Linked DNA regions of Homo sapiens. The protein of the gene in region 1 purifies or fractionates together with the protein of each later gene. This does not show direct contact. Each region holds a gene or a part of one and is shown in the gene's direction. Other genes may lie near its edges.

Evidence for each region.
Region 2: the proteins of SLC35F2 (region 1) and GALNT1 purify together in Homo sapiens (affinity purification with mass spectrometry; one large-scale study listed by BioGRID and IntAct). This does not show direct contact.
Region 3: the proteins of SLC35F2 (region 1) and TM9SF3 purify together in Homo sapiens (affinity purification with mass spectrometry; 2 studies listed by BioGRID and IntAct, with this or other methods). This does not show direct contact.
Region 4: the proteins of SLC35F2 (region 1) and SLC9D1 purify together in Homo sapiens (affinity purification with mass spectrometry; one large-scale study listed by BioGRID and IntAct). This does not show direct contact.
Region 5: the proteins of SLC35F2 (region 1) and RTN3 purify together in Homo sapiens (affinity purification with mass spectrometry; one large-scale study listed by BioGRID and IntAct). This does not show direct contact.
Region 6: the proteins of SLC35F2 (region 1) and LMBRD2 purify together in Homo sapiens (affinity purification with mass spectrometry; one large-scale study listed by BioGRID and IntAct). This does not show direct contact.
Region 7: the proteins of SLC35F2 (region 1) and TRAM1 purify together in Homo sapiens (affinity purification with mass spectrometry; one large-scale study listed by BioGRID and IntAct). This does not show direct contact.

Annotation. Positions count from the first base shown.
Region 1 is NC_000011.10:107,848,788-107,852,287, reverse strand, and holds part of SLC35F2 (solute carrier family 35 member F2), read left to right. Parts: intron 1-3,500.
Region 2 is NC_000018.10:35,580,275-35,584,539, forward strand, and holds the start of GALNT1 (polypeptide N-acetylgalactosaminyltransferase 1), read left to right. Parts: upstream 1-1,465; 5' UTR 1,466-1,588; exon of another isoform or gene 1,589-1,594; intron 1,595-4,265. UniProt on the Homo sapiens protein: Catalyzes the initial reaction in O-linked oligosaccharide biosynthesis, the transfer of an N-acetyl-D-galactosamine residue to a serine or threonine residue on the protein receptor.
Region 3 is NC_000010.11:96,580,513-96,584,012, reverse strand, and holds part of TM9SF3 (transmembrane 9 superfamily member 3 precursor), read left to right. Parts: intron 1-3,500.
Region 4 is NC_000013.11:113,546,521-113,550,020, forward strand, and holds part of SLC9D1 (transmembrane and coiled-coil domain-containing protein 3 isoform 1 precursor), read left to right. Parts: intron 1-779; coding exon 780-859; intron 860-1,782; coding exon 1,783-1,932; intron 1,933-2,904; coding exon 2,905-3,018; coding exon of another isoform or gene 3,019-3,032; 3' UTR 3,033-3,500. UniProt on the Homo sapiens protein: Probable Na(+)/H(+) antiporter.
Region 5 is NC_000011.10:63,688,000-63,691,499, forward strand, and holds part of RTN3 (reticulon-3), read left to right. Parts: intron 1-3,500. UniProt on the Homo sapiens protein: May be involved in membrane trafficking in the early secretory pathway. Inhibits BACE1 activity and amyloid precursor protein processing. May induce caspase-8 cascade and apoptosis.
Region 6 is NC_000005.10:36,141,888-36,145,387, reverse strand, and holds part of LMBRD2 (G-protein coupled receptor-associated protein LMBRD2), read left to right. Parts: intron 1-1,981; 5' UTR 1,982-2,038; coding exon 2,039-2,212; intron 2,213-2,788; coding exon 2,789-2,886; intron 2,887-3,500. UniProt on the Homo sapiens protein: Recruited to ligand-activated beta-2 adrenergic receptor/ADRB2, it negatively regulates the adrenergic receptor signaling pathway. May also regulate other G-protein coupled receptors including type-1 angiotensin II receptor/AGTR1.
Region 7 is NC_000008.11:70,580,917-70,584,416, reverse strand, and holds part of TRAM1 (translocating chain-associated membrane protein 1), read left to right. Parts: intron 1-623; coding exon 624-767; intron 768-1,092; coding exon 1,093-1,253; intron 1,254-3,500. UniProt on the Homo sapiens protein: Involved in the translocation of nascent protein chains into or through the endoplasmic reticulum (ER) membrane by facilitating the proper chain positioning at the SEC61 channel.

The DNA of each region.
Region 1 (3,500 bases):
GAGCCACTGTGCCCAGCCAATATTGTGTTTTTAGCAGAGATGAGGTTTCACCATGTTGGCTGAGCTGGTCTTGAACTCCTGGCCTCAAGTGATCCACCTCCCTTGGCCTCCCAAAGTGCTGGGATTACAGGCCTGAGCCACCACGCCTGGCCAACACCCACACTCCTTGTTATTGTCTAGCAACAGGTCTGGGATACACCTGTGCTTTCTCCTTTCATTTTGGTTTCCGCCTTCCACAGGGTAAAGTCCTAGACATTTTTGAAGGAGTCATTTAGTTGTGCTTAACTGTGCAGACTTTATCCAATCAACAGACATCTATTGAGCTCTCACTGTGTATGCAGCATAAATCCCAAGCTGGTATGTATCCCTGCTGAAGGGTATTGTTTATAGTGTTATTTAAACAAAGATGTAAAGTTAGGGATCTTTTGTGGCTTGTGCAGTTCCCTGGGGAATTGGGGAACTCTGGATTCTACGAGTCTCCATAAATTCTTCTCCCTTCCCCCTTTTTACTATGAAATTATTTACTATCTGCCCATTCTACTAGACTCCAGGAGTCAGGAATCATATCTAGTTATGGCCATTGTATATTCTGATTGTTACATTACTGACCTTGCAATAGATTCACAAAAAATATGGGATGCATGGCTGAGAATGAATCCTTAATTCCAATAGGCATTGTATAAAGGATTACATCCCTTTTTTTTAGAAAAAATTTCCACTCTGCATTATATGTTTGTGACCCAGTCATGTTGTTTTTTTCATCTAGTGTGTTTCTCAACCTCAGCCTTTTTTTTTTTTAATTTATTTTTATTTTTATTTTTTTTGAGACGGAGTTTCTCTCTTGTCACCCAGGCTGGAGTGGAATGGCGCAATCTCCAGTCACTGCAACCTCCGTCTCCGGGGTTCAAGCCATTCTCTAGCCTCAGCCTCCCAAGTAGCTGGGATTATAGGCGCCTGCCACCATGCCTGGCTAATTTTTGTATTTTTAGTAAAGACAGGGTTTCTTTCTTTCTTTTTTTTTTTTTGAGACAGCATCTCACTCTGTTGCCCCGGCTAGAGTACAGTGGTGCGATCTCAGCTCACTGCAACCTCCGCCTCCCGGGTTCAAGAGATTCTCCTGCTTCAGCCTCCTGAGTAGCTGGGACTACAGGCACGTGCCACCACTCCCGGCTAATTTTTGTATTTATAGTAGAGATGGGGTTTCACCATATTGGCCAGGCTGGTCTCGAACTCCTGACCTTGTGATCCGCCCACCTTAGCCTCCCAAAGTGCTGGGATTACAGGCGTGAGCCACCGCGCCCAGCTAAAGACAGGGTTTCACCATGTTGGCCAGGCTAGTCGCGAATTCCCAACCTCAGGTGATCCACCCATCTCAACCTCCCAAAGTGCTGGGATTACAGGTGTGAGACACTGTGCCCAATCAACCTCAGCCTTCTTGACATTTTGAGTTGACTAATTCTTTTTTTTTTTTTTGGAGACGGAGTCTCATTCCAGGCTGGAGTGCAGTGGCATGATTTTGGGTCACTGCAGCCTCCCCCTCTTGGTTCAAACGAATCTCTTGCCTCAGCCTCCCGAGTAGCTGGGATTACAGGCACCTGCCACCACGTTCGGCTAATTTTTGTATCTTTAGTAGAGATGGGATTTCACCATGTTGGCCAGGCTGGTCTCGAACTCCTGGCCTCAAGTGATCCACCTGCCTCGGCCTCCCAATGTGCTGGGCTTATAGAAGTGAGCCACCGTGCCCGGCCTTGAGTTGACTATTTGTTGGGGCTGTTCTGTAAGATGTAGATACCTGGCCCCACCCAATAAATGCCAGTATAGCACCCTCACCCCCACTCCCAGTTGTGATATTCAAAAGTGTCTCCAGACATTGCCAAATGTCTTCTCGGGGACAAAAATCATCCCTAATTGAGAACCACTGATTTAGTCTATTGTTTTTACCTGCTACAGAGTATTCTGTGGTTCCGTGGTCCATCCACCAGTGTTAGACAACCAGACAGCTTCCAACTCCCAGCCTCCACAAACATCACTGTGATGACCACTCTCATACATGTCCCCTATGTGCTGAAGAACGAGATGATAGCCAGGCTTGGGTCTGAGTCCCTCTAGGTAGAGGGGAGGGGATGCACCCCAGGATGGAGCAATCTTGGGCACTACAGAATCACCCTTGATTTCTGTTGTTCAGTGACTGTCCATTAAGCTATTCCTATCAGCTGCTCTGAAAGAAGGAGGAGGCAGTCTCTCTAGGTTACAGCCCATTAGCCCAAGGAGCTTGGAGAGGGTAGGTGAGGAATGATTGCTGGCTGGACAGCCTGAACCTGTTTTATTAATTTCTCAACACTGGAGGGAGTTGTTAAAGGGGCAGACATGTACTGTAGGGAGAGGTAAGACTGGAATTGAAAAGCTTTTCTCCAGCATGCCCTCCACTGGGCCTCTGGTTCCTCTTTCTGCCCCAGGCTGTAGTCTCCTTCTTCCCCTAGACCAGTTCTAGACAACCTTTGGGTTATTCCTTCTTTTGTTTGCTTCTTTCTTCTGGTTGACTTGAAGGAAGTCAGTGCTTATTCCCTGTCTTGACAGCGCTTCCAGAATAGTCCTAGAGTCCACCTCCCCCTTCAATCCCTATTGTCTTTTTTTTTTTTTTTTTTTCCCAAAACGGAGTCTTGCTCTGTCGCCCAGGCTGGAGTGCAGTGGCGCAATCTCAGCTCACTGCAACTTTCGCCTCCCAGGTTCAAGCGATTCTCCTGCCTCAGCCTCCTGAGTAGCTGGAATTACAGGTGCCTGCCACCAAGCCTGGCTAGTTTTTGCATTTTTAGTAGAGACGGGGTTTCACCATGTTGGCCAGGCTGGTCTCAAACTCCTGACTTCAGGTGATCTGCCCACCTCGGCCTCCCAAAGTGCTGGGATTACAGACGTGAGCCACCGCACCTGGCCTCAATCCCTATTGTGACTAATTCAGTTCAAGCCTTTATCATCTCTCACTTAGACTGTTGTAATAGCTTCCATCCATGCCTCCATCTATCCCCGACCCCAATCATCTCGCTACACAGAAGTCAGAGTGATGCCTAATAAAACGAAAGAGTATTAATGGCTGTCATCAAATGAGAATTCGCTGTGTATCAGGCACCCTACTTATATTTCATCAATCCTCATGACAATCCTACAAAAATAGGTTTTTTATTCTGTTTTGACAGACAGAGCAGGTAAGTAACTTACCCAGGACACTTGGCTGGTGAGAGGCAGAGCTGAGATAGTTTCATTTGTTTCTAAAATCCAGAGCTGCTTTACTCTTTCAAAAATCTCATGTGATATGACTAGTTTACTCAAAAAAATTAAAAGAAAAAAAGAAAGAAATCTCACTGCATTATGCTCAGGCTGAAAACCTTTTGGGATTCTTCCCATCACCTACCCTAGTGGTTTGCAAACCGGAGGAGCTCTTGGGGTTCCCTGGAGGTTCCTTAGGGTTCACCATGGGAAACAAGTAGGGGATAGGAGCTGGTGGG
Region 2 (4,265 bases), on another chromosome or scaffold:
TTTTGCCCATTTAAAATTGGACTATTAGTCTTATTACTGAGTTGTAAGAGTTCTTCATACATTCTGGCTACAAGTCCTTTAACAGATATATGATTTGCCAATCTTTTCTCCCAAGATAAGAGTATTTTTTAACGATGACAACTTTATTCCAAAGTGAAGTTTCCTTGTGGAACAGTAACAGGCTAGTCATGATTGACTTTGTTTCAAAATATTATATAAGTACTTTTAAAATAGTAACTTTTAACTTTTATTTTAGAATACTTGGAAGATGTAGACAAGCAAAAACAGGATACTAAAATTCCAGAGATAATCTTCAGGTTTTTTTTTTTTTTTTTCGGACAGCCTTTTGGTTATGTGAGAGGTAATATAAATTTAAAAGTGGGACCACTTAAATATTAAGTAATCTCTTATTGCAGCTCTTGGTTGGCAAGCAATAAGACACAAACCTCTGAATTATTTAAGTAGAAAATTAATTTATTAAAAGAATGGTTGGTTATGCCTCGCGTGAGTGACAGAGCCAGGGTTTTGTCTTCTATCTTCAGGGCAGGGTACAGCTGGGTATTGGAATTGTACCAAGCAGTGTTTCCCAAGGGGGCACAGAGGGAGGGCCCCTCTCCGGGCACTGTGCGGGAGCCACTTCCCCAAACAGTCCCCGTTCTGCAAGGGCCCCGGCGTTGCTGCCCCCGAGACCCGGGTGCCTGCCCCGGCGGTGCGGGTCGCGGGCCTCCGCTCTCGCCGTCCTCCCTCAGTCCCGGGCCTCCTGCATCGCGGTCGCCAGGCGCAGGCTCAGCGCGGCTGACAGCGCTCCAGCTCCCGCGCTCGCGGCCGCCTCAGGCAGCCGACCGGGTTGGGGCGGCCCCGCGCTCGGCCCGGGAGCCGATCCGCTGTGAGGGCTCCTCCATCTCCTCCCACCCCGTGACCTGCTCGACGCGCAACAGCCCGAGTTGTCTTTAACTTGCTGCGGCAGCCTCTTTGTCCCGACCCAGGGTCGGGGGCACCTCTCGGCCTGGCCCGGCCCTGCCCGTAGCCGTGTGAGCGGGGGCCGGGACTGGGCGGTCGGTCCGGGAGGGGCGCCGCGCCCGACCCCGGAGTCCCGAGCCCGAGGGGAGCGTCGCGGCCCCGCGGTGGGCTCGCCGCAGCGGAGGGGGCGCGCATCCGGGTGAGCGCCGGCGCCCCCGCCTCCCCCGCGCAGCCGCACGGGCCGCCGCCGCCGCTGCCGCCGAGCACGCAGCGCAGGGAGGACCGCGCCCGAGCGCCTGCGGGCGCCCTGCGGCGCCCGCCGCGCGACGAGCCCCAAGTGAGCGGGCAGGCGGCGCGCATGCGGGGCGGCCCGGAGTAGCGCCGCCCGAGCCCGCGAGCGGGGCGCCCGGAGTAGCCGCCGACCCGAGCCGGGCGCGGAGGCGGGGGCGGGCGCGGCGGAGCGGGGCCCGGCCGGACCCGCCCGCCCGCCGGGGGAGCCGCCGGCAGTGGCCGAGGAGCGCGCGGCGGACGGCGGCCCGAGAGTAGCGCGCTGGCCGCGGGACCGGCCGCGACCGCCGCGGCCGGCCCGGAGGACGCCTGCCGCCGCCGCCGCCGCGCGCCTAGCGAGGTGAGTGTATCGCCCGCGGCTGGGCAGTCCCGGAGCCGCAGCGCTGCGCGCGGGTCGGAGGTGGAGAAAGAGGCCCCGCCGCGGCCGCGTCCCCGGTCCCTTTGTGGCCGGCGCTGCCTGGGGCCGGGGCGCGGGCACGCTCGGCGCGGGTTCGGGTCTGGGACCCCGGTGCCGTTGGACACGCGGCGTCTCTGGTTGGCAGCTTTGGCGAGCAGCGAGTTTCCGTCCTAGTTTGACATTGAGTTAGAACCGTTTTTCTTTAGAAGACGGAAGTTTGTTTTATTGACAAAAATAAAGCTAAATATGGCTTCTGGGTTCGGCCGTGTGGTACTTGCAACCGCGGTGCCAGCCTGACCCTCGCGGCGCCACGGGGGAGGGGAAGACACGCCGGCAGCGGGGGAGGGGGCTTCCCGGCCCGCTGCCCCCGAGGAGGACCCGGACCTAAATTAGCAAATGTTTGTGGTTGGGAAGTAGCGGGCTTTAGGTAATGTAGTAGCTTTTCCGCTTTTCCTGGAAGAATGAATGAATGAGATGTCATTTACTCATCCATAATCAATACGTTGCCCATTTAAGCATTTACCAGGAATTGGGATGATTTGCATTGTCATTGCTTCTCTTATCTGGTCAGCCTTGCTAGATGAGGTTCCCTTACTCCCCAGATTTGTGACCTTGTCCTCATTCTCAAAGCCACTGAGCTAACCAACCCGTCTACCAAACTCACTTGGCATTTTTTTGGTCAAGTGGGCAATAGGCAAAGTAGTCTTTCTGAACTGTTTCTGGAGGGCAGAGAATGTCACTTTGATCATATCTTATGTTTAATACATTGCTTTATAATCGTGTCAAGAACGCTGAGAGTTAGGAGGTCTTGTCATTTCACAGATGAAATAGTGAAGGCCCTAAGAAGTTGCAACTTTTCAGGTCACAATCTGAGCAGCAGAGTTGGGATTCAAACCTAGACCTTGTTAGTCCAGTCCTCTTTACATCACATCTGTGTCCAGACCTGGACTGTCCAGCGTGGGAGCCACTAACCACATGTGACTATTAAAATTAAATTTTAAAAATTCAGCTCCTCGGTCACAGTAGCCACATTTCAAGTGTTCCATAGCTAAATGTGGTTCTTTGCTACAGTTGAACAGCCCTGGTCTAAATTATACATACATTTGTTGTGTCAGTAAATATTTACTGAATGCGATCTGTCTATGAGGCACAGTTTTAAGTTCTGGGTACATGGTGAATAAGGGAGACACAATGTCCTTGCCCTATTGGAATTGACATTTTACATGATCCTTTGAGGATGTTTCCATGGTACTCCGAGTCCTGCTATTCCAAGTGTGGATGGTGTACCAGCAGCATCCCTGTCACCTCAGACTCAAGTAATGCAGAATGTGAAGCCCCGCTGCACATCAACTGAATCAGTATCTGCTTTACCAGGATTTCAAGTTATTTGTGTGCACTTTGAAACCTGAGAAGCCTTTGTTCAGCGTGCTGGTGATAACTGCGTTTAATGACTGCTCTGCTGGTTTGTTTGGTGCCTCTTAAGCAGCAGACTGCAAAACTCTTGGGAGCACTCACCATTTATGCAAATACTTGTTAAATGCCTGGCTTTCTCAATAGAGTTTAAGCTTTATGAGAGCAGAGATTGTGGCTTCCTTTTCCAGCCATGTATCACTGAAGACTTTACAGTGCCTGGTAAGCAATAAGCACTTGGTATAAATGCTTGTTGGATAAACGAATGAGTGTGCTAGGATACTTAAGCGTGGTTGTTAGCTGGGTGTGGTGGCATGCGTCTGTAGTCCTAGCTATTCCAGAGTGACAGCGCGAGACCCTGTCTCAAAAAACTGAAAACCCAACAACAACAAAACTGATTGTTAATCCCAAGCAGTTACAGGCAAGGTAATTCTCATGACATCAGGTGAGAGAGCATGGGACCAGAGTCAAAATGAAGATAGATCTGTTTGTAACTTTCAGTGGGACGCTCCAGCTACTCTGACTGGAGTTTTGCTCCTGGCTCACTTGCATGCCCTATCCCTCTTTTAACTAATATAATAATAATTTTGAATCTGAATCACACATTAGTGCTTCATATAGTTTTTAAAAAATTTTGTATTTTTTTAGGTAGCTAAATTCCAGACATTATTTGGATTTCACCAGTTTTTCCGTTAATATCTTCTTTCTGTTCCAGAATCCAGTCCAGTGTACTACATTGTATTTTGACATCATGTTTCTTTAATATTTGGTTTGTGATAGTTTCTGTCTTGTCTGGTTTTCCATAACTTTGGTAGTTTTGAGGAATACTGTCCTGGCTTTCTTTGATGGACAGCTTTCCATACTCATTCTCATGAAAGGTCACAATCAGGTTGACGCTGTTTCTGCTTTTACTTATTTATTTATGTAATACATCTGTCATGCTTATGTAACATACAACTTTGGTACTTTTTTTTCAGTAACAGATTTCTTGGATACAGTTCCTAATTGGTTGAGATGCAGAAGAGTGTTATACCATTGCAGTTATATACCAAGTTTTATTTTTTGATGGGTTAAGAGCTGGGCTGAGGTAGAGGAGGAAGGAAAGAGGAGAGATCAGTTAAAAGAGGCAGTTAGGCAAAGAGGGACCAAGGCAAAGGGAGTGACAGATAATGGAGGAAGAGGAGTGCGGCAACTTCGTAGAAGAGAGTTA
Region 3 (3,500 bases), on another chromosome or scaffold:
ACCCAGGCTGGAGTACAGTGGCACAATGTCCACTCACTGCAATCTCTGCCTCCTGGGTTCAAGCAATTCTCCTGCCTCAGCCTCCCTAGTAGCTGTGATTACAGGTGCTTGCCACCATGCCTGGCTAATTTGTGTATTTTTAGTAGAGACGAGGTTTCACCATGTTGGCCAGGCTGGTCTTGAACTCCTGACCTCAGGTGATCTGCCTGCCTCGGCCTCCCAAAGTGCTGGGATTACAGGTGTGAGCCACCATGCCCTGCTGGCTATGCACTGTTCTAAGTATTTTACACTTATTAACTCATCTATTAATAACCTACGAGGTGAGTAATATGCCCATTTTGTAGATGAGGAAAGTGAATCTAGAGAGGTGAGGTCACCTGCAGATAACACACATCTGGTAGGGGTAGAGGTGGGATTTGAACTTAGGCATTCTGAGTTGATAGTCTTCTGCACTGTGAGCCGCCATATGCTCTATTCCCCTTTATCCTAAAAATAAGACAGTAAAGCACTAGGTATTGAGTGGTTCTCTATATTGATTTTTAAGTGCTTAAATGCTTAAATGCTCGAATGAGTGTGGCTCCATGATGAGTTGTTTCTGAGATCTTTGGGTTAGCATTAAGGAGCAATAGTGTTGACTTCATGGGCACGTGCCCTGAATAGTCACAAAAGACTGTGTGAGAGCTTGTTTTCATGCTATCCTGTAACATCTTGAAGTTTTAAATTTTTTAACAAGGGGCTCTGTATTTTTCTGTACTGGGTCGCACAAATTATATAGCTTGTCCTAAGAAGGGACAATACCTTATGCCCATTCCCCAAAGCCCCTGATATCTCTTACTGTACCTACTGAATTAGGATTCAGGTGGCCATCTGACCCATATGGTATTTTTTTTTCTTTTTCTTTCTTTCTTTCTTTTTTTTCTTTTTTTTTTTTTGAGACTATGTTTCACTCTTGTTGCCCAGGCTGGAGTGCAATGGCGTGATCTCGGCTCACTGCAACTTCCGCCTCCCGGGTTCAAACGATTCTCCTGTCTCAGCCTCCTGAGTAGCTGGGATTACAGGCATGTGCTACCGTGCCTGACTAATTTTGTATTTTTTTAGTTGAGACAGGGTTTCTCCATGTTGGTCAGCTGGTCTTGAACTCCTGATATCAGGTGATCCGCCTGCCTCGGCCTCCCAAAGTGCTGGGATTATAGGTGTGAGCCACTGCGCCTGACCCTATGGTATATATGTATATATTTTATGTGCTTATTTGTCCAAAGTTATTTTAATATTCTCTGAAGAGTGTTGAAAAGGAAATGTGCTATTGACTGTATGTACATATCTAGAATATGTAAAAATGTGTTCCTTTTAATTTTTAAAAGTTGAATCATATGCATTACAGACATGTTGTTTGAAATGAAAATTAACACTTTTGTGGAAGACAGGCTTTTAATAACTGATTGAAGGGACATAGGCTTCTTTATAGTCAGTGAAAGGTATGTTTATGCTTATTTGGTTTTCTAAAACTCAAAGCACTTGGAAGCATCTAGAGTTAGATTACTATGTCTCCTAAGATTCCGAAGGACTCCATTAAAAACAATTTCAGATTGAGAATCATAGAATTTTAGAACTAGAAAGACTCAATAATTTAATCCAAAACTCTTCATTTTCCTAATGGCCTGTACAGGTTCAGAGACTTGCTCAAGGCCACAGAAAGAATCAGAGCTTCCTGATCGCCAGTCTTGTCTTTTCTACCTGTCTTTTACATGTAATTCCATAGTTATAATATGTAAAGATGTTAGCAGCAAAAACCCAGTACTTAGGGGCACAGGAATCTTAGAGCATTTTATAGTTTGCACTGTAGCCTTGAATTTTTATGGGTTCTGTTTCCTTAACAAGATCACAAAGTCAGATTTTTTTTTTTTTGGTCTGTTATATACGCAAGCACTGTGCTTGGCACAAATAGTACTTGATGAGTGCTTGTTGAATGACTTGAATAATTAGGGAGCTACTAGTGACAAGGATATGCAGTGTGGAAGCACAATGAACAAACTGAGGCCGTTATTCCTTTAAGATGCATAGTCTTCTGTTTTGATTTGGGGGTCCTACCTAGGCTAAAATTCCCTATTTCTCTGTGGCCCAGTGTACTTCTGGTAATCTTGAGACTTCTAATGTTGGACAGACTGGATGCCTACTAGAATCGTTTACTCAGCCTCTGCCTCATAAATAATTTGTATTATATCACGGAGTGATTTCAGAAATGTTTTGTTTGATTTACTTTGGCAAATGGAAACCTTTTGTCTTTGTCTCTGTTGGGAGTATAGGAACTCTTAAAACTTACTGAAAACTTATAAAGAGTATAAGCTGTTTACTATAAGTGAATTTGTGAGTTATCTAATGTAGATTGTTAAATGCCGTAATTCGTTGTCCTATTTTCAGCTCTACTCAATGATAGACTGAAAGTTTATTTAGGTACAAAGCTATTTTTGAGAGAGAGTAGTTATCTCAAGAGACTATTCAAAATTACATTTCTAATTTATTTGTATTAGAATTCTGATGTGTGTTTTAATAATTTAAAGGTTTTGAAATTATGATTTCTGGAACATTATTTTGAAGTAAACACATATATTTTTCCCCCTTTGTATGAAAATGAAGGATAGCATTTGGGTGCTTGTTCTGAACCCTCAGTCCTTTGCTCATCTATGTAAATTGTGATTTCTTATTCAGATTTCACATGACCACGTCAGCATATTATCTTCTAAAGCGTTTCTCCTGATAATAATTAATTCATTACCTCTGTCAAGGAGGAAAACTTTGGTACCCCCCCAACACATAAACAGTATTTAAATAAGAGGGGCCCAACATTGGTGACTTCTTGAGAATAAAGGTCATTCCTTTTGAGATTAGAGTGCAAATAGCTTCTTAGAAGGTTTTTTTTCTTTCAGGCAGATTAAAGGCTCACATAGAAAAGTTATTCAGTGTTCAGGACTGTCTTTAGTTGCTTTGTACACCTGGCACTGTTTTCATATTTCCTTGATTTAGTTTTTTGCTCTTTAATGAATGAAGCTGACTAGGGATTAGCAAAAATACTAACCTTTTAAACTTGATGCTGATTGATTTGGACAAATTACTTAACATCTCTGTTCTTTAGTTTTGTTTTTGTTTTTAGTCTGTAAAATGGGGAAGTAATAGGACCTATTTTATAGAATTTTGAGATGATTATTTAAGTGTTCATATAAAGACCTTAGAACTATACCTAGCTCATAGTATGTATTTATTGTTAGCTACTGATGTTATTATTACAAAAATGGTGAGATCATGTCATGTTAGGGTTTGGTGAGTTAAGGCTTTACTTGAGGATTTGAAAAAGGAGGATTTGAGCATTTCGGAAGGATTATTAGAGTTTGGCTAAGTGGAGAAAAGGAGGGCATTCTAAATTTGGTGGAATGACGAAAGAAGATGAAGTGGGGCCAGGCGCAGTGGCTCACGCCTGTAATCCCAGCACTTTGGGAGGCCGAGGC
Region 4 (3,500 bases), on another chromosome or scaffold:
GCCAGTGTTTACATTTGTGTTTCTGGGTCAGGTAGAGACAGTGGTTTGTGAACGGCAGAAAGGTCATGGGCCTGCTCCGTGCACCTAACCCTGGGGTCTGGGTCCTTCCGATCAAGAGGAGGCCTCTGGGCTGCCGGGCTTCCTCCGAGGGCTGACATGCATCACTGGGCAGCTCCAGGCTGTGGCTGGAGAGCTGAGCCCAAGCTCAGGTCCAGCCCCAGCACCGCCGGCCCCTCTGCGTCACTCGGCAGCACAGCAGGACTGAGCAGCCCAGTCCGAGAGTCCTGAGAGCAGAGAGAAGAAATATGTGGAGACAACGTTTCCCATTGTTTTTAAAAATGTGTGAGCCAAATAAAGGAAGGAAAGGAACATTGACCACAGGCGTCCTGTGAGCGTGGCACTCCTGGGCACTCCTGGGCACTGTGGGGCTGTGGGCTCTGGGATCATCTGCACCTCAGCTGGAATATTTCCTGAAGGAGTGCCAGACCGAGTGCCGCCTCTGTGTGTTTTGCTGTGTCCTCTGCAGTTGAGGCCTGTTGCAGGGAGTGGAGCTGGGATCCCACCACATCAGACAGGTCATCCCAGGGCAGGCTTTTCCCCGGTTCGCTCAGGAAAGGGGCGGCTTTTTAGCATTTGCTGTTGCTTTCACACGTGCACTTGGGAGGATTTAGGATTTTAATTCCTGTATTGAAGCAAGTGACACACTGAAGTTGTGAGAAATAGTGTGCGCTGGGGGAGGCTGTCCTGCGGTCGTAACGTGTCTGTCCTGTTCCCAACAGGGCTCCACGTGTTCCCCACGTTTGTGGCGTACGAGCTCACGGTGCTGGTGTTCCTCACCTTGTCAGTGGTGGTGATGAAGGTATGGACTGGAAGGGTCCACGCCCCTCGCAGTTTGCAGGCTCAGCATAGCCCTCCCTGTGGCCCTGGTTTCCAGTGGGGCCCACATCGGGCCTGCAGAGCCGGCCCTGCTCCTCATCTCGGAGGAGGCCCACTGGGCCACTGGACCCCGGGGGAGGCAGATGTAGACGAGGCTGGGCGGTCTGGGTTTGTCCATGTGATCGATTGTTTCAGAATTGAGCGTGTTTAAAGGGGGGAACTAACCTTTTGGGACCCTCAGGACGGGCCTTGGCTGCAGTCCAGCCCGTCCTCCTCTGACAGATGCAGACATGCTTTTTAAAGACTGGAAAATGGTGTAGGCACTTTCTGTCTGTCCCCCGTGACTGCCAGTGATCGAGCTGCCTGTGTCCACATTTAATTGAAGGTGTGATGACCTAGTCAGCAACCAGTGGCTTTCTGGCTCATAGACAGTGACTTAGGTCATTTCCGTTTTAAGGAGCCAGAAGCTGTGATGATCGTTGGACCACTCCACCAGCTCTTAGCTACTCGGCCCAAAGACACACCACCAGCTCTTAGCTGCTCGGCCCAGAGACACACATCTCTCTGTATTAAAAAGAAATTTCCACCTTGAGTACCCCACGCTTAATGCTATTAATCTAGTTTGGTTGGGGCGGGGGCGGGGGGGCTTGGGCAAGGCTTATTATTTTCTGCTAATGAACCGAAAGGCTTAATTTTGCCTTATTGTTCAGTGTGGATTATTTAAGAGGTTTTGCGTGTATTTGGTGCCTTCGGGTGTTTGGAGTGCTTCTGTGCCTTTCCCTACTTGACGTGTTATTCAGGGACCATCGCAGCGTGCCTGTGGCTCGTCTGGGTTCTCTGTTTCGTGTGTGTTTAACTCTGTGTGGGTCCAGTCTTCAGCAGTGACGTAATGAACCGCTCTTGCAGTTTCTCCTGGCGGCGCTGGTCCTGTCTCTCATTCTGCCGAGGAGCAGCCAGTACATCAAGTGGATCGTCTCTGCGGGGCTTGCCCAGGTCAGCGAGTTTTCCTTTGTCCTGGGGAGCCGGGCGCGAAGAGCGGGCGTCATCTCTCGGGAGGTGAGTGGCTTCCCCCCGCGGAGCGCTTCTCGGGCGGCACGGGCTGCACTCTGGGTTTGAGTCGGGTGTGGCGAAGGCGGCTCGGCAGCACAGCGGGGCCTGGGGGCAGGGTCCTCCTCCAGGGGGGCACGCAGAGGCCTGGCTGCTCTCTGCTCATCCAGCATGTGGCGTTTTCAGAGGAAAGTTGCAGTTAGTACTGCTTGAACTATTGCATTAACCTTTTACAACAAGTCTAATTAAATGTCAGATATTTCTTCTGAAAGAAAACTAACTTTTTAAAGCTGAACTGCCAGTGTGCACATAAGTAGCACCCCAGAAACGTGAAATACCCGTAATGGCAGTGTGCCCGGAGAGCTGGGTGGAGGTTCCTGTGGACACTGAGATGGCCCTGGGCATTCGGACTCACGGCCTTGTCTCCTTGCATTGTGTAAGTGTGAGGCGGGTAGAAGTCCAGGTGTTGAGTGCAGTGGAAGTAATTGCTGAAAGGTAGAATTGCTTACAGGAAGCTCCACCTGAGGCCTGACCCAAGGCCGCATCCCCAGGGTCAGGGAAGCTGTGGGGCAGGCTGGCTTGTTACTGTGGCCCGGGGTTGGCCTTCAGGCAAACACAGGCTAAAGCTGTTATCCTGTGGCCCATCAGGACTAACCATGCATCACTGATCTTGAAATCACAGTCTCTCCTACATCCCAATGTCCTCAGCTTCTGGCTGTACTTCCATGTGCTTTAAAGAGATAGTAGTGAATTTATGATGTGCAGGCGTCCCTCCCAGCACTCGGCATGACCGCGCTTAGCTTCCATCCCCCACCCCCCCGTGCAGGCATCCCTCCCAGCACTCAGCGTGACTGTGCTCAGCCTCAGGACTCTAGCTTTGCAGGCGTCCCTCCCAGCTCAGTGAGACCAGCCCTGTGCTTTCCTGTTGCAGGTGCTAGTCCTGACAGTCTCTGTGACCCGCTCTGCACTTTGCTGTTGCAGGTGTACCTCCTTATACTGAGTGTGACCACGCTCAGCCTCTTGCTCGCCCCGGTGCTGTGGAGAGCTGCAATCACGAGGTGTGTGCCCAGACCGGAGAGACGGTCCAGCCTCTGATGGCTCGGAGATGATGGACCGTGGAAGGGAAGCGTCTGTGGGGAGTGAGCGCTTAGATGGCCAGCAGCTGCTCCTTCTGGGAAGCTCGCACCTTGGCAACAGAACAGCCCTCTAGCAGAGCGTCAGTGCAGTCGTGTTATCCCGGCTTTTACAGAATATTCTTGTCCTATTTTAGAATTTTCCGGAGTAGTTTATTTGCAGTCTGTTGATTATGTGCAGTAGACCCGGGACACTGCGTTTTACCGATCACCTTGAATGTGGTGCCTGGATGTGCCTTTTTTTTTTTTCCCTGAAATTATTATTAATTTTCTATTGTGAGTTCATCAGTTCATAGTTTTTTTAGTAAAGAAGCAAAATTAAAAGGCTTTTAAAAATGTACAACTTCAGAATTATAATCTGTTAGTCAAATATTTGTTATTAAACATTTCTGTAATATGAAGTTGTAATCCTGGCCGTGAGCTTGGAAGCTTACTTTTGATTCT
Region 5 (3,500 bases), about 44 Mb from region 1:
GAGGGAGGAGTCAAGATGTTTCCCAGAAGGCTTGGCATGAATCAATATGCTTAAATACTTATGCAGATTCTGACTAATAAATGTTGTTATGATACATTAGGAAACCCCTTTCAGCACAGAGGCAAGCATACAGGAGACAGCAAGAATGGTCATGTCAATATGGCCTGCAAATGCCTGCTGACTTGGATTGTTTTTATTCTCCAAGAATAAGAAGTGTGTTTTGCTTTTTTTTTTTTTTTTTTGAGACGGAGTCTCGCTCTGTCGCCCAGGCGGGAGTGCAGTGGTGCGATCTCAGCTCACTGCAACCTCCATCTCCCAGGTTCATGCCATTCTCCTGCCTCAGCTTCCCAGTAGCTGGGACTACAGGTGCCCACCACCACGCCTGGCTAATTTTTTGTGTTTTTAGTAGAGACAGGGTTTCACCATGTTAGCCAGGATGGTCTTGATCTCCTGACCTCATGATCCGCCAGCCTTGGCTTCCCAAAGTGCTGGGATTACAGGCGTGAGCCACCACGCCCGGCCAAGAAGTTTTTTTTTAATGCTGTTTTTGTTTATTGTCAAATTCACAAGTAATGGAACCACTCTGATCAAATTAAACAACCAATCTACATACATTTAGTAGGTGCACCCTTACCCTAAATTGTCATTTCTAAGGGGTTGTTCATTAAGTGGCTGGTAAGAACCTCAGTGTTTTTATTCTTGGTGTTTTAAAGATGGGCTGAAAATAAAAACCAATATTACTGCTTTTATCAAATTATCCTGTGAGGAAATAATATATTTATCCTGATATAGGAGTTACCTGTCTAGTCCTGTGCATGTTTCAAGCCTTGTAAAATGAAGTTTGGTCATGAAGGAATTGGTGACGTCTGGTTGAAGGGAAAAGGGAAAGTTGAGCTTTCCAATTTTGTTTGAGTCAAGAGTATATTTTGCAGAAAGACACTTCTCTTTACCCATAATCCTAGAATTTACCATTTTTGTAATTCTGAACAGAATTACAAAGGCTTCATTAAGTAAGTAGGTTTTCTAATATAAATGTGCATATTTGTTGTGTGCACTTAGCTTATAGTTTGTGTTAACTTTATTGTTGATGATGAATTTAGCCTCCTAAAGTATACAAACTTGTGAAAAATTCATCAATTTTGTAGTATAACTTTTTCTCTTAATTTAGCTAATACTCTTTGTATTGTTCTAATTTTGGTATATGTGCTGCTGAAGTAAGCACTCATAGTAAAACTTTTTAGACAAAAATTAGCAGGTCGATATTTTGTTCTTATAATTGACTTATTCAGAAGTTGCCCAGAAAACTGACTTAACCTTCTATTCTGTTCATTTATGACAGCTACTAGTTGTAGAGTTATTTTGGATCATAGGGTATGGTGTTGATGTTTTGAAAGAAGTGTGTGTGTTAAATAAGTTTAGCTGTAATCAGTATTGCTTGTGATTGCATCATTGAAGTCTTCTGGGCATCTGTGAGTTTTGTAAGACATGTTACTCTGTGATATTGCAACCTCAGAGAGAATCTCTTTAAATACTGTAACGGGGTTTGCATTTCCATTTTACGTATGGGAGAAGATTATCAGCAAGTGGCCTGCTCTTGTGATTTTTTTTTTTTATTTCAAATAACTATTCTTACCTGTTTTCTCCAATCAACTGATTTATTATCTCCTATAACCATATCATTGTAACCTAACCAGAGAAGACAGTGAGCTTATCAGCAAGTGGCCCACTCTTGTGATTTTTGATTTTTTTTTTTTTATTTCAAAGAACTATTTTTTTGAGACAGAATCCCCCTCTGTTGCTCAGGCTGGAGTGCAGTGGTGGGATCTCTGCTCACTGCAACCTCCGCCCCCCGGGTTCAAGCGATTCTCCTGCCTCAGCCCCCTGAGTAGGTGGGATTGCAGGCTTGTGCCACCATGCCCAGCTAATTTTTGTATTTTTAGTAGAGATGGGGTTTCACCATGTTGGTCAGGCTGGTCCCGAACTCCTGACCTCAAGTGAACTGCCCCCGCCTCGGCCTCCCACAGTGCTGGGATTACAGATGTGAGCCACCACACCCAGTCTCAAAGAACTATTCTTACCTGTTTTCTCCAATCAACTGATTTATTATCTCCTGTAACCATATCATCATAACTTAACCAGAGGGAACGGTGAGCTTTTTGACCTGTTCCTCATTGGTAGCTCGCCCTTCAAGATATATGGAAGGACATTCTGGAAAACCTTTTGTTATGAAAATTGTGTCCTGTTATTTGAACATATTTCAGTGGAGGGCATTGTCTTTATTTTACGTATGAGATAGAAGTACTTGATTTTCACGATATCTTACATTTGTGTACTGCTTTATGATTTAAGTTGTGCCCATATGTTACCTTAATTCAACAACTGAGCATACATGAAGGCTCTTTGCCAGGTGCTGTGGAAGACAGAAAGGTAAATAAAATATAGATCATTCCTCTAGAGGCCATATTCTATAGAGGAAAGACTTGTATTATGTTTATCTGTGAGGTAGACAGGTAGCGATATAACCCCCTTCTTACAGATGGGGACTCAGGCACAGAGAGTTTAATGCCCACGCTTTAAGATTTGAAGCAACATGTAGTAAAAGTGGCTCAGTTACCCTTTTGAATTCAGTGATCAGTTTAATTTAAAAGTCTTAATTTCTGGCTCCACGGTTCTTAAGCCAGGTGCCTTTTTATTTCACTGCTCTACAGAAACTTTCTAGTCAAGTTCACCAGATATTTTCCACATTGTTAAATTCAGTGGTCACTTCATCCTCCTCTTAACATGCTTTCACAACAGCTTTTGACATAATTGATTATTCTCTCCTTGAAATGCTTTTTTAATTTGTCTTCTGTGACACCACATACTCACTCTCACTGGCTTTTCATCCTCTGTCTCCATAAAATTCACCATTTTAAGGTGGGTTTTAGTGTATGCACAAGGTTGTACAGCTATCTCCACTATCTAATTCCAGAACATTTTTATTACCCCAAAGAGAAACCCCATATCTGTTAGCAGTAATTCACCGTTCTTCCCTCCCCTCAATTCTCTGACAACTATTAATCTGCTTTCTGACTCTGTGGATTTCCTTATTCTTGAGATTTAATATTGCTAATTCTTTTTTTTTTTTTTTTTTTTTTTTGAGATGGAGTCTCACTCTGTCACCCAGGGTGGAGTGCAGTGGCACGATCTCTGCTCACTGCACCATCCGCCTCCTGGATTCAAGCGATTCTCCTGCTTCAGCCTCCCAAGTAGCTGGGATTATAGGCATGTGCCACCATGCCCAGCTAATTTTTGTATTTTTAGTAGAGGCAGGGTTTCACCATGTTGGTCAGGCTGGTCTTGAACTCCTGACCTCAGGAGATCCACCCTCCTTGGCCTCCTAAAATGCTGGGATTACAGGTGTGAGCTACTGCGTCCGACCTAATTATTTTTATTTTGATAGAGACGAGGTCTCACTATGTTGCCTAGGCTGGTATTGAACTCCTGGGCTCAAGCGATCC
Region 6 (3,500 bases), on another chromosome or scaffold:
CTTTGTTGTGGTATAAGTTGTTTCATAGAATATGAAATTTGAAAATTTGAGTAGTATTTGGTAATGTTCAGAGTTTTAAGCCTTTTGAGTTGTAATAAGTATTTGTTAAATCAGTTTACCATTACACGAGTTTTACATTGCCTTTGAAGTCGTCAGTAATAGAAAAATAGTGTATGTACTAAACTACACAGTATTTTTTATTATTTCAACAAATATTTCTTGATACTACTGTATGCCAGGTACTAACTACATCAGACAACTGGAATATAGTATGGAATAAAATAGTCAAGTCTCTGCTCTCATAGAGTCTCTGGGGTAAGGGGAGAGGTGTGGAGAGACAATAAATATAAAGAATGTGTATTATATCAGATGAATAAATGCATTGAAGGAAAATATAGCAGGATAAGAGGGTAGAGATTGATGAAAGAAGTTCAATTTTAGATAATTAAGAAAAATGAAAATATTGACAGTTGAAATGGAAACTGTTTACCAATATAAAAAATAGTGAAGAAAATTGTTCATTAAATGTGATTTTTCTATGTGATAGTTCATGTAGGAGTATTTTGTATATAAATTTAAATTTAACCATTTAAAGTACTTAAATTGTCTTTTCTATTATTCTAAATAGTTTTAGTTAAAGATGTTTGTTGATTTGAAGTATTTCATTGGTTCTCCCTTATTTTGTTATTTATTTATTTATTTTGAGACAGAATTTTGCTCTTGTTGCCCAGGCTTCAGTGTAATGGCACGATATCGGCTTACTGCAACCTCTGCCTTCCAGGTTCAAGCGATTCTCCTGCCTCAGCCTACTGAGTAGCTGTGATTACAGGCACCCGCTACCACACCTGGCTAATTTTTGTATTTTTAGTAGAGATGGTGTTTCACCATGTTGGCCCAGGCTGGTCATGAACTCCTGACCTCAGGTGATCCGCCTGCCTTAGCCTCCCGAAGTGCTAGGATTACAGGTGTGAGCCACTGCCCCTTATTTTATTTTGTTGGGTTGATCACACTCTTGATTCTCTGTGTTAGGATATTAATCAATTCCTTGAAATACTGTAGTATGTAGATAAACAAAAGTCTAACATTGATTTTACAAAGGAGAAAAAGTTCATATTGCCTTTGATTAGTAAATTTTTTTAAGTATAGAGAGATATCAAATTTTTCAATTTTAAAATAGAGACTTTAAATCTCTATACTCTAACTTTTTTGAGTAGAGAGATATCAAGTAAACTATTCGCTGATGACTGTATCATAAAATTAAGAATGTTTTCAAATGTATGACTTTAATAGTCATTGATAAATTTTCTGCATATAAAATAGTAGAAAAATTAAAAATGAGAATTTATCAAAGTAAGTTTAAAGATTTATGTAGATAAATGGAAGTGATAAATATATTTTGTAAAGCAGTGAGTAAGAATTTCATGAAAGTTGAGTTGTTAGGTGAAATTAACACAAAAGAAAAATACTATTTCAAAAAACAAAAGGTTACTTTTAAATGGTCTCTTTCCGTTTTTTCCTTCCTCTCTTTTAGAAAATCTTAAATTATAGAGGATGAATAATCTTAGTAAAATGTATTTTACTAAGTATCTAATTTCCTAGGATTTAGTTAACAGCTTATTTGCATAAACTATTCTGTTAGGACTTATAATATTAAGAAACAAACTCCAGATGACACTGTATTAAAACTGTTCACATCTAAAATAAGAACTTCTTAATTTGTAATATTGTAAGAACTAATAATTTTTGTTAAGTTTTTGAAAATACAAGGTACGTGAAATTTTTTAAGTGTGCTTTAAAAATAAAATATAAGTACTTGAGGATAGGAATTACCCTTTTAATCTTATTCATAGTCCAATGTGAAGCATGACATTTCTCCAAAGAGTTGATTAATGTATTAATGTACTAATAAATATTCAGATGAAATTTCCAAATGTCATTTCCTGTGTTAATGATGCATTTTAACCTTCTTTTTACTTTATAGATATGGTCCAGACCTGTACATGAATAACTTTGGTTAGTCAGAGTGAAATATTCAATAATGAGTGGTGCAGCTTTGGGACTTGAGATTGTTTTTGTCTTTTTTCTGGCATTATTTCTGCTTCATCGATATGGAGACTTTAAGAAACAGCATAGACTTGTGATTATTGGAACACTGCTTGCTTGGTATCTCTGCTTTCTTATTGTCTTCATACTGCCTCTGGATGTTAGTACGGTAAGGAGTGAAATTTATTTTCACAATTTAAAAGACAAATTTTAATCATACAGCATGTTGGAAATAATGTTATTTCTTAAGACAGCTAAGTTATGTCAGTTTTGAATTAAAAGATTATATGGCCATTTGATCATTAAAAAGCATAGCCAAGGGCCGGGCGTGGTGGCTCACGCCTGTAATTTTAGCACTTTGGGAGGCCCAGACTGGCGGATCACAAGGTCAGGAGATCGAGACTATCCTGGCTAACACGGTGAAACACCGTCTCTACTAAAAATACAAAAAAAATAGCCGGACGTGGTGGCGGACGCCTGTAGTCCCAGCTACTCGGGAGGCTGAGGCAGGAGAATGGCGTGAATCCGGGAGGCGGAGCTTGCAGTAAGCCGAGATCGCGCCACTGCACTCCAGCCTGGGCGACAGAGTGAGACTCTGTCTCACACAAAAAGAAAAAAAAAAAAAAAAGAATAAAGCATAGCCAAGAAGGTAAGTTTAGATAGATAGATTTATAAACTCTGATGTCCTTTAAGTACTTGGTAACCTTTTGATTCTCATTTTTAAACCATACATTCGTTGCTTTAGACAATATACAACCGGTGCAAGCATGCTGCTGCAAATTCAAGCCCTCCTGAGAATAGCAACATTACAGGATTGTACGCAACTGCTAACCCTGTTCCAAGGTATTTCCTTTTTTAAAAAAAATATATAAACATTGTAGGGGACACATTGTTTAAAAATTGAAAGTTTTTACCATCCAGACTTTATATTTATGTAAGTTATCCTCATTCTCTACTAATTCTCCCCACCTCTATTCTTTCCTAGTAGACTTTTCATTACATCATATTCTAATTAAATCTAATTTTTAATATTTATTGGTCCACAAAGCCCTTCAGTAGACGGTAGTGAGAAACTTGAAGAAGTCCTGATTTTTTAGTCCTGGTTCTTCTTTACCAAGTATGTAATTTCTAAAACCTGTTTTTCCTCTCAGCCTATCTCAGATTTAAAAACGTGGGATGTATTTTCACTTTTGCCTAATTTACAAGGTTATAATAAAGACAAGTATTTCTGAACTTATGGTATTCCTTTCATATTGCACATCCTTCAAAAGCATTATAGATTTACATAAAAAATTAATAAAGTTCAAATTGTCCAAAGATTATATTGAATTCATATCGAACTTTTAAGTAAAAAGCTTATATATGTTGACTATAGCCTTTATGAATGCTTTCAGTAGTATTTGCATGCTTCTTTATGCATATTTTTAAAAAATCTAACTTCAGAAAAGGTAAATTTA
Region 7 (3,500 bases), on another chromosome or scaffold:
ACACTGTGTTGAATAGGAGTGGTGAGAGAGGCCATCCCTGTCTTGTGCCAAAAACTGGGACTCTTAAATGAGAATTGGGCATCCTGTTCTTTATAACACAGCTTTTTTGGTTTGTTTTGTCCAGCATTTTCCAAAATTATTCTGAATACTAGTAGTTCTGAGGAATATTAATAGTTCTTATACAAGAAAAGAGATAAGCTAAACAGAAAATTAAACATTTATTTCCTGGATTGTTTTAGAAATTTAAATAGGCTAATATGTGTTATATCTCTCTGAGTGTGATATATAGCCTTTCCCAGATATTTGACTCAAAATTCTTTTTTGCAGAATAAGAAATGCTATTTTAATAGGCTTTTACTTAATAGGAATCTAGTTTCTTCTTTATTTATTTATTTATTTTTTTGAGATGGAGTTTCGCTCTTGTTGCCCAGGCTGGAGTGCAGTGGCGCAATCTCTGCTCACTGTGACCTCCACCTTCTGGTTTCAAGCAATTCTCCTGCCTCAGCCTCCCAAGTAGCTGGGATTACAGGCGTCTGCCACCACGCCCAACTTAGGAATCTAATTTCTAATAGAATCTTGTTTTTGAGATTTCAGGAATTTGACTTACGGCCTTTTTCTTGCAGATTTTCTCTGTGGGCAGTTCTTTTTGTTTTGGGAAGACTTCTGACTTTAATTCTTTCAGTACTGACTGTTGGTTTTGGCCTTGCAAGAGCAGAAAATCAGAAGCTGGATTTCAGTACTGGAAACTTCAATGTGTTAGCTGTTAGGTACGATCAATTTAACATTTTTTTCACTTTATACAGCTAGATAATATATATTATCAGTTTCTCTACATTGAATCATCTAAAAAAGGATGAATATGAGGTTGGGGAAAATACTCATTTGATTTTATTTCATACCCGTTGCTATTTTACATGTCTAAAGTGAAGTACTAAAGCATTTAACTTTTAGGATAAATTATTAATGCAATGATTATTAATACAATTTTCTCAACTGAGTGGGAATTATTACTAAATACTATGAAAGATGATAGAATGTATTCAGTGGCATTGTTTTTTATACACTAACTTTTTATGTCTTAATATTTCTTAGAATCGCTGTTCTGGCATCCATTTGCGTTACTCAGGCATTTATGATGTGGAAGTTCATTAATTTTCAGCTTCGAAGGTGGAGGGAACATTCTGCTTTTCAGGCACCAGCTGTGAAGAAGAAACCAACAGTAACTAAAGGCAGATCTTCTAAAAAAGGAACAGGTTTGTATTCAGTAAGCAATGAAAAACTCATGGAAGTAGAAAACTTTTAAAAAATTTGTTGTTGGATCTTATTTATTAGTTTTAAGGTGTCTTATAAAGAAAATACTATTCTGCTTTTCAACAAAATTAGAGGCAAAGTAATCTTACTGCATTCCACAATTGGGTGATCCCTTGGGTGAGGAAACTCAGTTACTCCCCTCAAAAGCTGTCCATCACATTTCTCTTTAACAAGTTTTCCATGCTTGGTTACCTTGAGCTACTTTAGACCAAACTTTATGGGCAGGTTTAAACTAAACCTGAGGATGGTAGTTTGTTTTCAAGCATCTTATTCACATTTTAAAAAGCTCTTCACAACCTCTTCCCATCTGCCCATTTGTCCCAAGTGGAATAGCTTTTTTTTTATAACTTCTGATTGCTTGATTCTTTGTCTTTAAAGCCTTCATTTAACCTCTTTTTTCCTTATGGTTTTTGCAAAAATTGAAAATGCATCGATATTACAGTTAATTTTTTCAGTGTGTATGTGGTATTAGGCTTAGAACTATAACACAGGAAGTTTTTAGAGTATGTCCACTCTGGTTTACTCCTTTGTAAGTATTAATACCTGATAATTTACATCCTCCAGCCCTGCCTTTTTTTTTTTTTTTCAAGTTTGTCCCAGCAAGTCTTGGCCCTTTGCATTTTCTTAATACATTTTAGTACAACTTGATCTAGGTGCAGTGGGGGGTGCCTGTAGTCCAGCTATTCAGGAGGCTGAGGCAGGAGGATCACTTGAACCCAGGAGTTCAAGGTTACAGTGCACAATGATCATGCCTGTGAAGCCCTACTACACTCCAGCCTGGGCAACATATGCCTCTTTAGAAAAAAAAAAAAAAAATTATACAACCTGGTCAATTTCCACAAAAGTTGCTGGGATATTAAGTTGAAATAACATCAAATCTGTAGATCGATTTAGGGATAATTGACTATTTCAACCCATTAACATGATATATACCTCTGTTTATTTAGGTTGTCTTTAATTTCTCCAAGTAATATTTTTAATAGCTTTAATGGGATGTAATTCACATAAAGTTTACCCTTTAAAGTATACATTTCAGTCATTTTTAATGTATGTTCACAAAATCGTGCAAACCACTATCTAATTCCAGAATATTTCTATCACTGCAAAAAGAAACCCCATGCCCCTTAGCATCACTTCACTTTGCCCCCTTCATTCTGCTCCGGCACCCTCTAATCTATTTTCTGTCTCTAAGGATTGGCCTTTTCTGGACATTTCATGTAAACAGAACCATGTGATATGTGGTTTTGCAAATGGATAATGCTTTGAGGTTCATCCATGTCATAGCATATAGAAAGACTTCATTTATTTTTACAGCCAATTAATATTCCATTGTATGGAACCTTTTGGATGGATGTATACCATATTTTGTTTATCCATTCATCATTTGATGGATATTGAGTGCCTTTTACTTTTTGGCTATTATGAATCGTGATGCTGTGAACATTTAGGTGCAAGTTTTTGTTCAAACATGTGTTTTCATTCTCTAGGGTACATACATAGGAGTGGGATTTCCGAGTCATGCGGTAACTATGTTTAACATTTTGAGGGAACTGCCAAACTGTTCTTTGAAGTGGTTATACTATTTTACACTCAGTTTAGCATCTTGATACTCAGTTGTCCCTGTGCCATTTGTTAAAAAGACTCCTTCACTTGAACTGTCTTGATACCCTTTTCAAAAATCATTTTTAAGAAAAGTTTATTTCTGGATCATGAATTCTATTTCATTTATTCGTATGTCGATTCTTATGCCAGAACCACACTATCTTGATTACTGTAGCTTTGTAGTAAGTTTTGAAAGCAGGTAATGTGAGTCCCCATTGTTGTTGTTCTATTTTATGTTTTGGTTATTCTGGGTTTCTTACATTTCCATATGAGTTTTTATTTAAGTGACGGGATCTTGCTATGTTGCCCAGGCTAGACTTGAACTTGTAGGCTCAAGGGATTCTCCCATCAGCCTCCCAGGTAGCTGGGACTACAGGCATATGCTGCCTTGCCCAGCCATTTTAATATGAATTCTATAATGAGCTTGTCAGTTTCTGCAAAAAAGCCAGCTGGGGTTTTGGTATGGATTATCTTCAATTTGTAGGTTGCTTTGCAGAGTATGAACATGAATGTCTGTTTATTTAGATCTTTTAATCTCTTTCAATTATATTTATCAGTGTATACATCTTGCAGTTCATTAAATTTAA